Linked DNA regions of Homo sapiens: regions 2 and 3 are each linked to region 1. Evidence: fine-mapped expression QTL. A gene starts in region 1. Each other region holds a variant in brackets. All regions are shown on one strand. Distances are between the middles of the regions. Region 1 holds the start of RHCG (Rh family C glycoprotein). Region 2 has its middle 57 kb from the start of RHCG. Region 3 holds the start of LOC105370964 (a long non-coding RNA gene).

The links. PIP is the estimated chance that this variant, and not a neighbour inherited with it, causes the effect. A credible set is the group of variants that fine-mapping cannot tell apart.
Region 2: its variant is the best candidate, but not a certain one, in a credible set for the expression of RHCG in anterior cingulate cortex (GTEx, PIP 0.58).
Region 3: its variant is the best candidate, but not a certain one, in a credible set for the expression of RHCG in prefrontal cortex (BrainSeq, PIP 0.88).

The regions. Positions count from the first base shown.
Region 1 is chr15:89,494,702-89,499,924 of GRCh38, reverse strand. RHCG (Rh family C glycoprotein) reads left to right here and starts at 3,342. Exons shown (of 11, transcript NM_016321.3): 1 at 3,342-3,564. The coding sequence starts at 3,381.
Region 2 is chr15:89,437,374-89,442,596 of GRCh38, reverse strand. No RefSeq gene overlaps it. Among named protein-coding and RNA genes, the nearest start is that of RHCG, 57 kb to the left of the region's middle. RefSeq lists enhancers at 687-836, 302-981, 982-1,661. The variant G/A (reference allele first, on the strand shown) is at 2,352.
Region 3 is chr15:89,466,040-89,471,262 of GRCh38, reverse strand. It overlaps LOC105370964 (a long non-coding RNA gene), which reads left to right and starts at 1,991. Exons shown (of 3, transcript XR_932600.4): 1 at 1,991-2,113. LOC112268153 (a long non-coding RNA gene) reads right to left here. Exons shown (of 2, transcript XR_002957725.2): 2 at 1,532-2,109. The variant T/G (reference allele first, on the strand shown) is at 2,400.

The DNA.
Region 1 (5,223 bases):
AACCTCCACCTCCCGGGTTCAAGAGATTCCTCTGTCTCAGCCTCCCGAGTAGCTGGATTACAGGCGCCTGCCATCACAGCCAGCTAATTTTTGTATTTTTAGTAGAGACGGGGTTTCACCATGTTGGCCAGGCTGGTCTCAAACTCCTGGCCTCAAATGATCCACCCGCCTCAGCCTCCCAAAGTGCTGGGATTACAGGTGTGAGCCACTGTGCCCGGCCAGGACTTGTTTTTGAATGTTAATTCATGATGACCTATATTAGTTGAGTGGCCCAGAAATGTAACCCAAGAAAAAAACCATCTGATAACAGTGTCTCCCTTGAACCTTGTATCCCCTTTGTAGTCTGAAGCCCATCGTTTGTACCTTGAGTCTACCAAATATGAAGGTCAAGGGCAAACGGCCTTCTTGTGCTGGCTGTGGGTAGTGACCGTGCTTGGCTGTGGCTCCAGGTCTGTCCCACTGAGCCTCTGCAGGGCTTGTGAGTCAGCGTCTCTCTCCTGGACCCTGTACCCTGCCCCATCAAGGAGTCCCCCAAGGGGGTCCCGGGTTCCAGCACCACAGGTGTGCTAGGGGACTCTGGAGGAGGTCTGGATGGGAGGGCAGTTCTCACAATGAGCAAGACACCCCGGCTTCCCTATCCTTTAAGCAGGCCAGCCTGGTGAGCAGGTCTTCCACCTGCCCCCTCCCGGCCCAGGCTTCAGGGACCACGCCACCCACTGCCCTCTATCCCATAACGCCACTGCTCCTGTGGGGAACCTAGATGCTCATGAATCTACTTGCAGCAGCCTCCCCCACCCCAGCCCTTGTCTCCCTCCCTCCACTTACTCCCATTGCCGTGTACTTGAAGTTTTTCTCCCCAGCAGTGAATGCACATGCACGAAGTCAAACCCTCCTTCTCGCTCCTTCCAGAGGGGACAAGCAGAATGGCACAGTAGAAAGACTACAGCCTTTGAAATCAGACAGCCCAGGGTTTGAATCTCCAGCAAGTTCCTTAGCCAATCTGAGAACTCAGGTTTTTCAACTGTAGCATGTACCTACAATGTCCACTTCACAAGTGTTTAGTTGAGAATTTAAATATATATCAAAAGGATCCGGCAACCGCAGGAACTTAATAAATGGTCCCTATTGCTGGTATTGCTCATGCAGTGTCTGGCTGCTTCTTTGCCAAGGGAGTGGGGATACCCTGGTACCCCAAGCTGGCACAGTGTGGCCACACTCAAGTTCCAAGCACCCTGATTAGGTGCTTAGCCTCAGATGTTATACATGGCATTAGTGGCTTTTACAAATCTGGGATTTCAACTGGCAAGATTTTTTAAAGCCAGCATTGGCAAGAGTGCATGGGAAAAGTCACTGACCCCTGGCTCACAGGGTGCATGCTTTGTCTCGTAAAATCTTTCTAGGGGAACATCTAGAGATATGTATTGAAACAGCTCTGCCTCCAGGAATTCACAGAAAGTTGTGCAAAGACTTACATATCTGGATGTTCATGACAGCATGATTTGTAATACTAAACAAATAAAAAATGACCTCATCGCTCGTCACCTAACACTAGGGATTGTCTAGATAAAGCACAGTATATCCTGCTATAAAAGTTATGTTGTGGCAGGCTGGGTGTGGTGGCTCATGCCTGTAATCCCAGCATTTTGAGAGGCTGAGGTGGGAGGATCACTTGAGCCCATAAGTTCAAGACCACCCTGGGCAAGATAGGGAGACCCCATCTCTACAAAAAAAAAAAACTTAGCCGGGCGCGGTGGCGCACGCCTATAGTCCCAGCTACTCAGGAGGCTGAGGCCAGAGAATGGTGTGAACCCGGGAGGCGGAGCTTGCAGTGAGCCGAGATCACCCCACTGCACTCCAGCCTGGGCAACAGAGCGAGACCTGTCTCAAAAAAAAAAAAAAAAAAAAAAAAAAAATTAGGTGGGCCTGGTGGCACATGCCTGTGGTTTCAGCTAATTGGGAGGCTGAAGTGGGAGGATCACTTGAGCCCAGGAGGTCAAGGCAGCAGTGAACCATGATCAAGCCACTGCCCTCCAGCCTGGGCATCAGAGCAAGACCCTATCTCAAAAAAATAAATAAATAAAAAAGAAAAAGAAAAAGAAAAAAAGTTGTAGAAGTATAATATGGGAAGGTGTTTACAAAATATGAAAGGAGTTAAAAACGCTATAAATTAGTATGATCGTTTGAAACACTCCCCCTGCTCCCCTCCAGCCCCTCTTCAATGAGCTAGGAAAAGACTAGAGTACATACACCAAAATATTAGTATTGCCTCTGGGTGGTGGGATTATGAGTGATTTTTACTTTCTTCTTTGTGTTTTTCTGTATTTTCCAAATCTCTACAATTATCTCTGTATTTTTAAAGAAAAATTAGAAAATCAAATTTATTTTGACAATATACAGACTAAGCAGACAATATACAGACTGTTATACTGCTGAACAGAGAAACATGGGGATCATTGGCCTCCCAGTGAGATCAGAAGGAATTCCCAGACCTAAATATTATGGTTAACTCATGTCAAGATCACAGATCTTAACCAGAAGACAGTTCCTGACTATGGACCAATGAACTTGTGAAAAACTCTTAAATTGTTCTTACAATCCTTTATACGTGTTTTTTTTCTTAAAACCCTTGTATTTTGGAATAATTTTAGATTTACAGAAAAGTGGCAAAGACAGTCCCCATATAGCCCTTACTCAGTTTATCCTACTGTTAACATTTTACATAACCATGACATTTGTCCCAACTAAGAAAACAACATGGGAACGTCACTATTAACTAATTTTCAGGCTTTATTTGGATTTTACCAGTTTTCCAATTAACATCCTTTTTCTGTTCCAGGGTCAAGTCTGGGGTAGCACATCACAGATGTCTCCCCAGGCCGCTCTGTTGTGTGACAGTGTCCCAAACATTCCTTGTTTCTCATGTGCCCTGTATGAATTTCATAATCAGAAAAAGAAAGGACAGATGATGATGCAGATGATGATGGCAGATGATGATGATGTTGATGATGATGACTTAGGTCTGGGAATTCCTTCTGATCTCACTGGGAGGCCAATGATCCCCGTGTTTCTCTGTTCAGCAGAACAAAAGGAGAAAGGCCCCAGTATCAACGGGACACACAGAATTTGGGGCACCCTGATCCTCCTGCCCACTGCCTTAGCCTCTGCTCCTGCCGCTGTCCCCCAGCCCGACGCGGGGAATCTTTTGGGGCCCTCGGCTTGGGTTGGGCCCCTGCCAGTTGGGCGAGCGCGCGGGCGGTGCCCGAGTCAGCTGCTCCGTGCCCCACGTGGCCGCCCCGCCCCCCTGCCCGGGTCTCAAAAGCCCCGCCGGCCTCCGAGCGTCCGAACCGCCCGCTGCCAGCCCGGCCAGGCACCCCTGCAGCATGGCCTGGAACACCAACCTCCGCTGGCGGCTGCCGCTCACCTGCCTGCTCCTGCAGGTGATTATGGTGATTCTCTTCGGGGTGTTCGTGCGCTACGACTTCGAGGCCGACGCCCACTGGTGGTCAGAGAGGACGCACAAGAACTTGAGCGACATGGAGAACGAATTCTACTATCGCTACCCAAGTAAGTCTCGCCGCCTGCAGGCCCAGCGGAGGCATATCCGCGCCGGTCCCCACCTGGCCAAGGGCTCGGCCCAGAGCTGGGCAGAGGAGGGGATCTACCCTGCAGCCGCGGACTCCGCATCTCGCCGGCCTCTGCAGGGCATGCGTGGGAAATTGTCAGATGTGCACAAACTCCTTTTCCCCGTGAAAAACTAGTAGGGAAAACACCGGGATGAGGTTTTTATTTGACCGCCCTCCCAGCCGTCAGAGCCCCCCAACATCCCTGTCAGAGAGCCCTGCTTGGTATACTAAGAAGATCCGAGTCCTCTCGCCCCATTACCAACCAGTGGATGACCTGGCTCCCTTGTCCAGAGGAGCGCTTACTCCAAATAAGCGCCAGCCCTGCTGTGGGCAGAGGTGTTGTGGGACCACTGGTGGGCCAGGAGGCCAGGACACCCACCCCCTTTTAGCTTGGAGAGGGAAAACAAGCGCCCCTGAATCTTCTGGTGTCAGCGGTGCTGTGGTTAAGAGCATGACCCTACAATCACACACCTCCCTTTCTCTCATGCTCTCGTGGCTCTTGCCACAAACCAGGTGGCTGGCCTCAGGCAAATGCCAACCTTCCTAAACCTCAATTTCCTCATCTACAGAATGAAGATAATGGTAGGACCTCCTTCACAGGGGTTGGGGTGAGGCTGTGGCGAGGAAGTGCATGTAAAGCTCTGGCAGAGTTGGGGTGGGATCCTTTCTTCATAATGGAGCAATTGCTACAAGAGCACCAAACACAGGTGCCCTAGGACTCAGGAGCAGGGAGAGCTAGCCCAAGGTCACTCTGAGCTGCCCGACCTCTGGACTCCCAGCCTGGGGCTCTTCCCAAAATCAGAATGCCCTTGTACTTTCTGATTTTCCACTCCATCCGCCATCAGCCAATGAAAATTATTCTAGCCGGTGGTGTTCATGTAGTCATTGACTGTTAGCTTTGAAAGGGACCCTAAAGCCCCTCTCCAGCAGCCGCCTATATCAACTGGTATTCCCTCCACACCTTAGACATTCTCGGCAACAGGGGATTCTCTATCTCCAAGAAAACAACTGCACACTTTCAGAATGGCAGCCTGCATGAAAAAAGACTGCGTTTGGGGGGCTGCAGGCTTGGTGGGAGCCAGCCATATTAAGTGGCTGCCAAAAAGTTAGGGCTATCATGGGCTGCATTTAATAGTTACTTGGTGCCTAGAAGGGAAGTAACAGATAAGGGGTGCGCCCCCTGCTGGGGAGACCACAGTTTCTCCTGGGCTCCATTTAGGGCTGTTTTTTAAAAGATATCTTAGACAGCTGCAGCCTTGGGATTCAGGCTCCAAATCCACTGTTCACATTGTCCACCTTTCCTCTCCTCAAGGGGGGGACTTTCCAGCAAACAGTGAGGCAGGCAAGCTTGAGACCCTCCTTTACCTGTTCTTCTCCCTCCCTCCCGCACTTGCTTCCCACTTGACCCCAGAGCATAAGGGGCAAGAACTCCCATGGGCGTTCACAGGTCCTCAATGTGTCTGGGGAGTGGAGGACCTCAAGACCTTAAATAGGCTGGGTGCGATGGCTCACACCTGTAATCCCAGCATACTTTGGGAGGCTGAGGTGGGAGGATCGCTTGAGCTTGGGAGTTTGAAGCTACAGTGAGCTATGACAGCAC
Region 2 (5,223 bases), 57 kb after region 1:
CCACCCCACAGAGACTTAGGATGGCATCAGGACCCAGTCATGAAGGGGGGCAGGTGACTCCCAGGCAACCCAGCCACCACCTACTACCTTCCCAGGGGGTGGCAGGCGGCAACCAGAACCTAGAGCCCCTGCCGCTACCCCCGCTGACACAGAGCACCCTCAGCTGCCCCGTGTAAGCCACTGAAACCTGGCTCCAGAAGCACATTAGAGGGTCCCAGCCACCACCATGGTCTCTGACCGCACGGCACCACATACCACAGACCCTGTGAGACCCAGGAACCCAAGCAAGACGACATCGTCTTGCCTGTACACAGCAAACTTCCCCGCCCTGGAGCTGGCCTACTGCCCCCCGCCCCTTTCTGCTTTTCCAGTAGGGTCAGTGGCTTTCAGGCATTGTCCCAGGAGGGTGGGGGCTGGAATCCTCACCAGGAGAACCCCAGCACCAGCCCCGGCAATGACTGGATGCCAAATGCTTGACTCCTTTTTTCATTTCTATCATATCCACAAATATGTATTGAACCAGGCACCAGGCCCTACCCGAGTGCTTGGGATCCACCAGTGAAAACAACCAATACCCCTGCAGTCTCAGAGCTGACATCCGAACTTGACTCAAAAGCATGAATAGGTGGGTCGGGATCATGGTTGGCTTCATGCCTTTGCTCAAATGTCACCCTCTTAATGAGGCCTTCCCTGGCCCATTTGCAATGGCGGCCCCAGCACACCCTGTTCACCTTCCTGCTTTATTCCTCACCTTCAGCTCATCTCTATGATGTACTTATTTATCTTGTTTATTGCCCACCTCCTCCACCAGAATGTCAGCTCTGTGAGGCAGGGATGGTCATGTGTTTTGTTTAGAGCTGTATATCATGATGCCTGGATCATCATGCTCAATAAAGGGGCTCAATAAAGGTTGTTGAATAAGTGAACACTCAGCCTTGCTTCACTGACCGGCTCCTTCCTGTGCGGCCTCAGTTCCTCTCTCAGTTCCTCTCCCAAGCCCCACCCACAGGTGCTCCCCTCAGGCTGTAAGGTTTGCTCCGCCCTCCTGGCTCCACCCCTCCCTATGCCCAGGATTAGTGGGAAGCCACAGTGGCCTTGGGAAGAGCATGGGCATCTGGGTGCCCTAGACCTCACCCAGGCCACTGACCCTGATCTGCCCACTGGGCCTGCCTGACCTGGTGCTGGCTTTGTGCCCACTGCCCCAGCTGTGCCCTCCCTCTTCCTCCCCTCCCTCCTCCCTGACACAGCAGGTGGACAGAGCCTGTGCAGCTCTAGCTGCATTGCCTCAGGGGGCAGCTTTCTAGCTTCTGGTGACCTGCCACCCTCTCACTCCCCTCTGAGCTCATGGCACAGTGGACAGCTACCAGCCTGGCTCACGGCAACCTCCAGCTCCTGGGCTCAAGCGATTCCCCCTGCCTCAGCCTCCCAGGTAGTTGGGGCTATAGGTGTGCACCACCACACCTGGCTAATATTTAAAATTTATTTATTCATTTATTTATTTTTTTGAGACAGAGTTTCGCTCTCGTTGCCCAGGCTGGAGTGCAATGGTGCGATCTCGGCTCACTGCAACTTCCGCCTCCTGGGTTCAAGTGATTATCCTGCCTCAACCTCCCGAGTAGCTGAGATTACAGGCACCTGCCGCCACACCTGCTAATTTTTGTATTTTCAGTAGAGACAGGGTTTTACCACATTGGTCAGGCTAGTCTCGAACTCCTGACCTCAAGTGATCTGCCTGCCTCAGCCTCCCAAAGTGGTGTAAAAAATTATTTTAGAGACGGAGTCTCGCTATGTTGCCCAGGCAGGTCACAAACTCCTGGGCACAAGGGATCCTTCCACTTCAGCCTCCCAAAGTGCTGAGATTACAGGATTGAGTCACTGCACCCGGCTTACCATTTTCAAGCATGTTGACATTCAGGATTGGGCCTGAGCCCCTGAAACCAGCATGCAGGTAGCCAGGGCAGGATTGCAATGCCCATTTTACAGAGGCGGGCCCAGAACTCACAGAATGAGGCTCATACATCTCATACCTGAGGCTTGGACCCAGAGCTAGTCTCGGAAGGTTCTGGAGCCCTTTGGGCTGGGACACAGTCCCTGCTGGGATCAGGGACCCGATGCCACCCTCTGGTGAGAGAAGCAGCCCAGTTTCTCCCTGCCCATCTCTGAAGATCCTTGCAGTTTATTCACCAGTTCATTCAATTCTCATTTTCCCAGAGACAGTACATGTCACAGAAGATTCAAGCATACTCCTGAACAGGAAACTTTTCTGGGACTCAAGTTTCTTTACCTGTAGAAGGGGCTTAATGATAGCATGTATTATTGTTAGTACTTATTATTAGTAATAGAATATAAGA[G/A]GTCATTGTGAAGAGTCACTGAGGCATGGTATATAACATGTTCTGCACATTGTCTGGTACATAGGAAACATTCATTATATTCATTAAATAGTAGCGATTTTTATTCTGGGTCTAGGCATAGAGATGCAGCTGGGTGAGAGACATAGACTCCCTTGCTCTGGAAGCCTTGTGTCCCCTGGGGAAGCCACAACCAGAGTGTCAGCATGCAACATGCAGGCCCACCCAAGGAGAAGCCTCGCAGAGGGGCAGCTAAGTCAGCCAATGGGGCCACAAAGGCGCAAAGGCGTCCTAAAAGAAGGGACCACTAAGACCGGATGCATGCTCAGGAGCAGTCCAGGCAAGGAAGGAGGGATGGTGTCTTGCCCAAAGGCACGGCAGGTGCTAACGTGGGTCTGCTGGGGCAAGCGGAGGCAGACGGAGGCCAGCTTCAAGAGGCCTGTGCAAGCCCCTCTGGAAAGCTGGGACTTCTGGGGGCACTGGGGACATGGCACAGCTGAGCTCAGAGAACAAGAGGGTAGATAGAGAAGGAAGAGGGGCTGTAGAGAGAGGTGATGGCAGAGGGAAGAGAGGGGCATGGAGAGGGGCCAGGTGAGTGGGGTGCCCTCAGGCACTGGATCAGAAAGTCTGGGTGTGGGCTGGGGCGGTGGCTCATGCCTATAATCCCAGCACTTTGTGAGGCCGAGGTGGGTGGATTGCTTGAGGTCAGGAGTTCAAGACCAGCCTGACCAACATAGTGAAACCCCGACTCCACTAAAAATACAAAAAAATTAGCCGGGCATGGTGGTGGGTGCCTGTAATCCCAGCTACTTGGGAGGCTGAGGCAAGAGAATCGCTTGAACCTGAGAGGTGGAGGTTTCAGTGAGCCGAGATCGTGCCACTGCACTCCAGCCTGGGTGACAGAGGGAGACTCTGTCAAAAAAAAAGAAAAAAGAAAGGCTGGGGTGTTTACCATCCAGCAAAGGGAGGTAAAGTGATAGGGAGAGGGGTCCTCTTTTCCAACTCAAATGGAGATGCCATATGGGCTAGCTCTGGTGCTGCAGGCAGGACCCCCGTGAGCACTCCCTCTGGACCCAAGCCCTGTTCTGGGAAGGAGTTGCCCGGCTTCCCGATAGCAGTCCTCCAAGCTCTGAGCACTCTTGGGCTGGTGAGCCAGTATGGGATGAGGAGGGGATCCCCTGGTGGTCCTCCCAGAATCCTACCCTCCAAGAGCCAGGACTGTGTGTCATCTACTGTGTGAACTCACAAAACTGTCTTCCCCAGTCTGGGTTTCAGTTTCCTCATCTGTCAAGTGGACCCATTTCTTTTCTCCCCTCAGGTCCTAGTGTTGGCACACATTTAGTCTGGGGTGCTCAGCCGACCAGCACCAGGGTCTCCCTGCCACCTGGATCCCTTACTGCTCCCACACCAAGAGGACCTGTGACCCACGAGTGCAGGGAAGCCATGTGAACGGCAAGAACCTAGTTGCTGGACTGAGCAGCCTCCTGCAGACATTCTGGTCTACACCGACCTGGCTCAGCCGGAGTCAGCCCCTCTCTAGAGCTGGCAAGAGGCCCAAGCTTAGCGCCTCTTCCAGAGGGGGTAGCCCATTGCCCTCCCATATCTGACAGGTCTCCTTGTGCTCCAAGGGGCAGTGAGGGGTTGGAGTGTCTCTTGCTGCCTCTTTTCTGGCCTCATCCCCACAGCTGTGGCTGCACTCTCACCGCTACCCTGAGCTTCTGTGGATGCTGAATTCATATGAAATCTCAGAGGGAGGGCTCCTGGGTGGGCAGACAGATGGGAAGAGGAGATGCTCCAAGGCTTTCCTCCCTGACCCTGCTCTCCCAAGATTGTCCTCTGCCCTCATGTGCGGGGCCTGAGCAAGCAGGACAGGCTGCCTGGTTGAACTGGTGGTCTCATCTCAGGCAGGATCTAGGTGTATGATGTGGCCTCAGGTCTGGGCTGACAGAGGACAGTCTGGTATAACACAGAGGCCCCTGTGGGACCTCAAGCAGGCTCTGGGGAAGTCAGTGACCAGTGAGTCCTGAGCAGGACGGAGCTAGAGCTAATGACTCCAGCAGATCTCATGAATGCTCAGAGTTGGGCCCGGCACAGTGACTCACGCCTGTAATCACAGCATTTTGGGAAGCTGAGGCAGGCAGATCACTTGAGGTCAGGAGTTCAAGACCAGCCTGACCAACACAGTGAAAAGTACATAGCAAAATACATAGCAAAAAATACAAAAATACAAAAAAATTAGCCAGGCGTGGTGGTGTGTGTCTATAGTCCCAGCTACTTGGGAGGCTAAGGCAGGAGAATGGCTTGAACCTGGGAGGCAGAGGTTGCAGTGAGCCGAGATTGTGCCACTGCACTCCAACCTGGACGACAGAATGAGACTAGATGTCATATGACTTAGCATGCCAATGCTTAAAGGCTTAAGGAGAGGAGAGGAGGAGGTGAGTGAGACTATGTGACTATGTCTCAAAACAAACAAACAAAATAACAACAACAACAACAAAAACACAGGTGAGAGTTGAGCCAACCCAGGCTGAATCCTTGCTCTTCTGCCTTCTAGCCGTGTGACCTTGGACAAGTCATTGGACTTCTCTGTGTTTCAGTTCCCTGTGCAAAGTAAAAAGCAACAGTAACACCTATTCTAAAGGGTTGATATCACGGAATAGATATAAAGTACCTGGCACAGGACCTAACACTGAGTAGTTACTCAATTAATGGTAACTATGATTATTTGTATTCCCATGGACAAGTGGCTACATGGTACTTCAGTGCCCTGAGCTATGTGACCTTGGGCAAGTTGCATACCCTCTCTGGGCCCATCTGTAAAATGAGGGACTTCAGTAGAGGAAGCCCAAGACCTCCCTTTGATTTAAGCTTTCTG
Region 3 (5,223 bases), 29 kb after region 1:
TAGAGCCTGCCTTCAGCCTGGGGCACCCAGCAGGGCTCAGCTCTGGGCTGGGGTCTTGCTTCAAGGCCCCTCCATCAGCTACTCCAGAAACTCAGCCCTTGAGAAAGCTGGCATCTCTGTTGTGCCCTCCATGTGGTCCTGCTCTGGGCACTCCAGCAGGACTGCGAGAAGGGAGGGAGGGCTCCTTTGGGCCCATCTCCTCCTCCCCATCCCTTCCCTTCTTTCTCTCTGCCAAGCCAGCCTTCTTTTCCCTGGACAGTGGGGTAAGGTTTCAGGAGGGTAGATCTCCCAGGCTCACCACCACCCTGGGCAGAGTAATACACCTTCCTGCCCTCAGGGGCTCACAGTCTAGCTGGGAGACAGACCTGACCCTCAGAATCCATGCTGAACTCTGACAGGTGTGGCTGGACAGGAAGTCTGTACCCAGTTGGCTTCTCAAAGCAGGGCCACCTGAGCAGGGTTCTGGAGGCTGAATAGGAGTTTACCAGAAGGATGGCAAAGAAACAGCATGGGCACAGACCCATGGGTAGGAATTAACACGGTGAAGTCTGCTACTGGCTAGAAGAGATGTGAGGCAGAAGTGTGCCAGTTGGAGAATAAGACTTGGAATCCGGATCTTTTGTGGAGCAAAGGCTCCTGGGAAGAAGGGGTGAGGGAAAAGGGAGGAGGTCTCTCAGCTTCCAACTCCGCCCTCCCCGCCCCCTTGCAATTCACACACACACACACACACACACACACACACACACACACACACACACACACACACCGCTGCATGCCTCTTACCAGTGCAGGGGGGAGGGGAAGGAGGGATCTGAAATGCAACCTATTCATGTACCCGCGATGTAACACCCCTCATTTTCCATGCTGGGTAAAGACAAAAACCCTTTACAACCTGTTTCTGGAACTTGTCAGCAGCTGCCAAGAGGAGCATGTTAATTAAACGTCGGCAAAGATGGAAGCCGGAGACCCTGGCTCTAATTGGACAGTTTGCTTCACCGGATTGAAAAACATTGTGACAAAGGAGAAGGTGCGCGGCGCTCGGCAGGGGTGCGGCGTGGCGGGGAGGGAGCTGTGGCTTTGATTTCAGCTGATCTGAGCCCCAGCCTCCCTCCCCCAGCAGAGCCGCTTGGCCCAGCCCCATATGCCTATGAAGGGCCTGGGAGGGGCCCGCAGCGTGAGAGGGTGCAGGGTGGCGTGGGGGGCGGGGTGCGAAGGGGTGCTGGGGGGGTGGTTCCTGAAGCCCACCTCCCACCCCTCCCACCCCAATCCCAGGCACCACCAGGCCAACAGTATTGGGCCCAACCCAGAGCCAGGCTTTTAGGGCTCTGGGGCTCACCCCTCCTCCTGATCACATGACCTGGGTCCTGGGGGCTGCACAGGGAGGGGAGGGGGCCAGCGCTGGCTTCCAACTCCCTCCTGTGCAATGTGCAGGCTACACTAAGAGCCTATGCCCACCGCGTCTGTTACCAGTTGAGGATAGTTGTCCAAGTTCTTGGCATTTTGAACAAAGAATTAGACCAAATGCACAAAGCAAGGCAGCAAAAGCAGAGATTTATTTTAAACGAAAGTACACTCCACAGGGTGGGAGCGGGCTCGAGCAAGAGGCTCAAGAGCCTGGGCTACAGGATTTTCTGGGGTTTAAATACCCTCCAGGGGTTTCCCATCTGTTCACTCTATGCACATAAAGTAGTGGCCCGCAACCAGTCTGATTGGTTGCGGGAGGGAACCAATCCGAGGTACTTTCATTTCCAACTGCCAGGCAGCAACTGCCATGCAGAAAAAGGAGGGGTTGAAAGGGAGTAGCCTCTGATATCCAGTCAGCATGCATCGAACTTAGGTTCCCTGCCTCCAGACCCTATTCTCCTGCCTCATTTCCCCCGAGAGACATGATCCCCAGAAATCTTTATGGGAGACAGAGTGACTGATGGTCTTTCTTCTGTAACTGCGTCACCCTGACTTGAGGTGCAGTCCCTACCTATTGGGGATCCCCGAACTCCTGCCTTTATCTATCGAGTGGAGACTGGGTAGTTTCTTGATGGCCAGGGGTGCTGCCTTCATTTGGAACAGGCTGGAAACCTTGTCACAGGATCATCTGAAACTTGATGGTCTCTAGGTGAGAGGAAATGAATTTGGTTAAAAGATTTAATGGGAACTTCAGGGGGTGGATACCTATGCTGTCAGGAATGTTTGTTATAGGAATGAATTACAACAGTCTGCTTAGTCACTACAAAGGAAGTGATTCCAATCGTTTGAAAGAAAGCACCTAAACTGCAAGAAATCTGAGAACATGGCTGCTATTATCCAGCCTACAGTAACTATGCAACAAAAACACCAAGGAAAGTTGGTAGGCATTTACTTGTCTTTTGACTGTCTGATGGAAACTTCAGGCTCCTGGTCCC[T/G]GGCTTCAGGTATCACAGACTTGATCCTTGAAAGATGTATCCAACTATCTAATCCTAGTACCTTGACCATAGAAGGCATAGCCAGTACCACTAAAAACGGTCCCTTCCATTGGGGTTGCAATTGTTGAGCAGGTGATCCCTCCTTCTATGTTTTAACAAGTACCTTATCCCTTAGCCTGATTTTGGGTTGCTGGTTAGTTCCCGGTATGGTGGGGCCTTTGAGTTCCAAACTTTTGTAAAGCCTGCTGAAATTGTCTTAAGTTAACTAGGTATCTTGCTAAACTGGCTGTTTCTGGATCAGTAATTAAATCACTAGTTAAGAATGGCCTTCCATATAACATTTCATAGGGGGTTATATTAATTTTTGCTCTAGGGGTATTACGGATCCTTAAGAGGGCTATAGGCAGTAAGCTGACCCAAGTTTTTGATGTTTCCTGACATAGTTTAGCTAACACTCATTTTAGAGTTTGGTTAGCCATTTCTACTTTCCTGGAGGATTGAGGCCTCCATGCTGAATGTAAATAGTATTTGATTCCAAGAGCCTTAGCAACCCCTTGAGTTATTTGGGAGATAAAAGATGAGCCATTATCACTTTGGAGGCTCTGAGGTAACCCAGACCGGGGGATTATTTCTTTTAAGGGAAACTTTATAGCCTCATTAGCCTTCTCTGTTCTGGTAGGGTAAGCTTTGACCCAACCAGTAAAGATATCTATTAGCACTCACAAAAACTTGTATCCTCTGCAAGCTGGCATATGGGTGAAGTCTAATTACCAGTCTTCCCCTGGGTAAGTTCCTCTCCTCTGGTCTGGTTCTATTAGAGGAGGCATTTTGTTTCCTGGGTTAAGTGCACACAGTGAGCAGGCTTGACAGGCCTGCTTAACCACCGAAGTTAAGTTAGGCCCAATGAAGAGCCTGTTAACCATGGCCAGGGTGGCATCTCTCCCCATATGGAAGGAGTCATCCAGGGTTTTTATAATTCTCCATTGGGCTGTTTGAGGCAGATGTATTTTTGATCTCATATACCACCAGGATCTTTTTTTTTTTTTTTTTTTTTTTGCCCCACTTGCTCCTTTATTAACTGTTCTTCCTGTAGTGTGTATTTGGGATCCACTGGGAATCATAGAAAGGAATCAGTGCTAGGATCTGTTGGGATTGCACCCTGAGGGATGTGGCTTTGGCTTCTCTATCAACCTTTCTGTTCCCTTGTGCTATAGGAGTTAAGTCCCTTTGATGCCCCCTACAATGGATTATAGCTATGGCCTGTGGCAGGTGTATTGTTTACAATAGCTGAAGAATTTCAGGCCCATGCTTTATGGGGGAGGGTTTGCTAGCTAGTAGTCCCCTTTCTTTCTAGATTGCAGCATAAGCGTGAACCACAAGGAATGCCATATTTAGAATCTGTATAGATGTTAAGCTTTTTATTTTGTCCCAAAATTAATGCTCGGGTAAGAGCAATGATTTCAGCCTTTTGTGCTGATGTGCCAAGGGGCAGTGGCTGGGCTTCGATAAGGGTGTTGTGATTGACTATTGCATACACAGCTCAGTGTTCCCCATTTGACACAGAACTGCCATCTGTGAACAAGTCCTCAGAATCTGGGAGAGGCTGATCTTTTAAATTAGGCCAGCTAACATATGCATGTGCAATGACTGGCTCGCAGGAATGATCTGTCATTGGGCCTATGGGTATCAATGAAGCTGGATTCAAAGTGTTACAGGTTTTAAGGGTTACATCTGGATTGTCTAGGAGCACGGCCTGGTATTTGGTTAACCTTTCCCCCATCACCCAGATGTGTCCTTTTATCTCTAAGACTGACTTTACCTGATGGGGGGTTAGAACTTCCAGTGATTGGCTCAGGGTGATTTTAGTGGCTTCCTCCACTAACATAGCAATGGCTGCTGTTACCCACAGGCAACTTGGCCATCCCAAGGCCACTCTCTCCAACTTCTTTGAAAAGTAGGTGTTTGGTCTGGGTTCTGATCCTAATTTCTGGACTAGCACTCCCACAGCTATGCCATTCGTCTCTGCTACATACAAGGGAAGGGCTTAGTTAGGTCTGGGATCCCAAGAGCTGGAGCCTGGGTAAGGGCCTATTTTAGCTTGGCACAGGCTTCTCTCATTTCCAGGGTCCATTCCATTAGCTCATTTTCAGGCCTCCTTGTTGCTTCATACAGGGGCTTTGCTATGAGCCCTAAATTTGGTACTCATATTCCACAAAACCTGGCCATTCCCCAAAAAGAATGAAGCTGCTGCTTGGGGTGGAGGGGCCCAAACCACATATGGCTTGCACTCGTTCTGGGGATACTTGCAGGTTCCAGGTGTTAAGATGTACCCTAAACAGTGGACCTGTTGGAGAGTAATCTGAGCCTTCTTTTTGGACACTTTGTATGACCTGTCAGCCGGGAAATGTAAGGTTTTTATAGTATTTTGGTCAGAAGCCTCTTGGGTTGGGCTATACACAAGAAGGTGATCCACATACTGGAGTATACTCCCATCCTCCAATTGCAGACCCCTCAGATCCCTCTCTAAGGGTTGGGCAAAGAAGTGGGGGCTATCCCAAAAGCCTTAGGGGAGCACTGCCCAAGTGTTTTTCTCTGGTATTAGGATTTTCCCATTCAAAGGCAAAAGGGTATTGGGACTCTGGAACCAGAGGAATGAAGAAGAAAGCATCTTTTAGGTGTAGGACTGAGAACCATTTTGCATCCCCTGGTACCTGAGCCAGTAGGGTATATAGATCCATCATCAATGGGTGGAGAGAGATAACAGCCTCATTAATTATTCTGAGAACCTATACTACCCTGTATTTCCCCAAAAGCTTTAGAACGG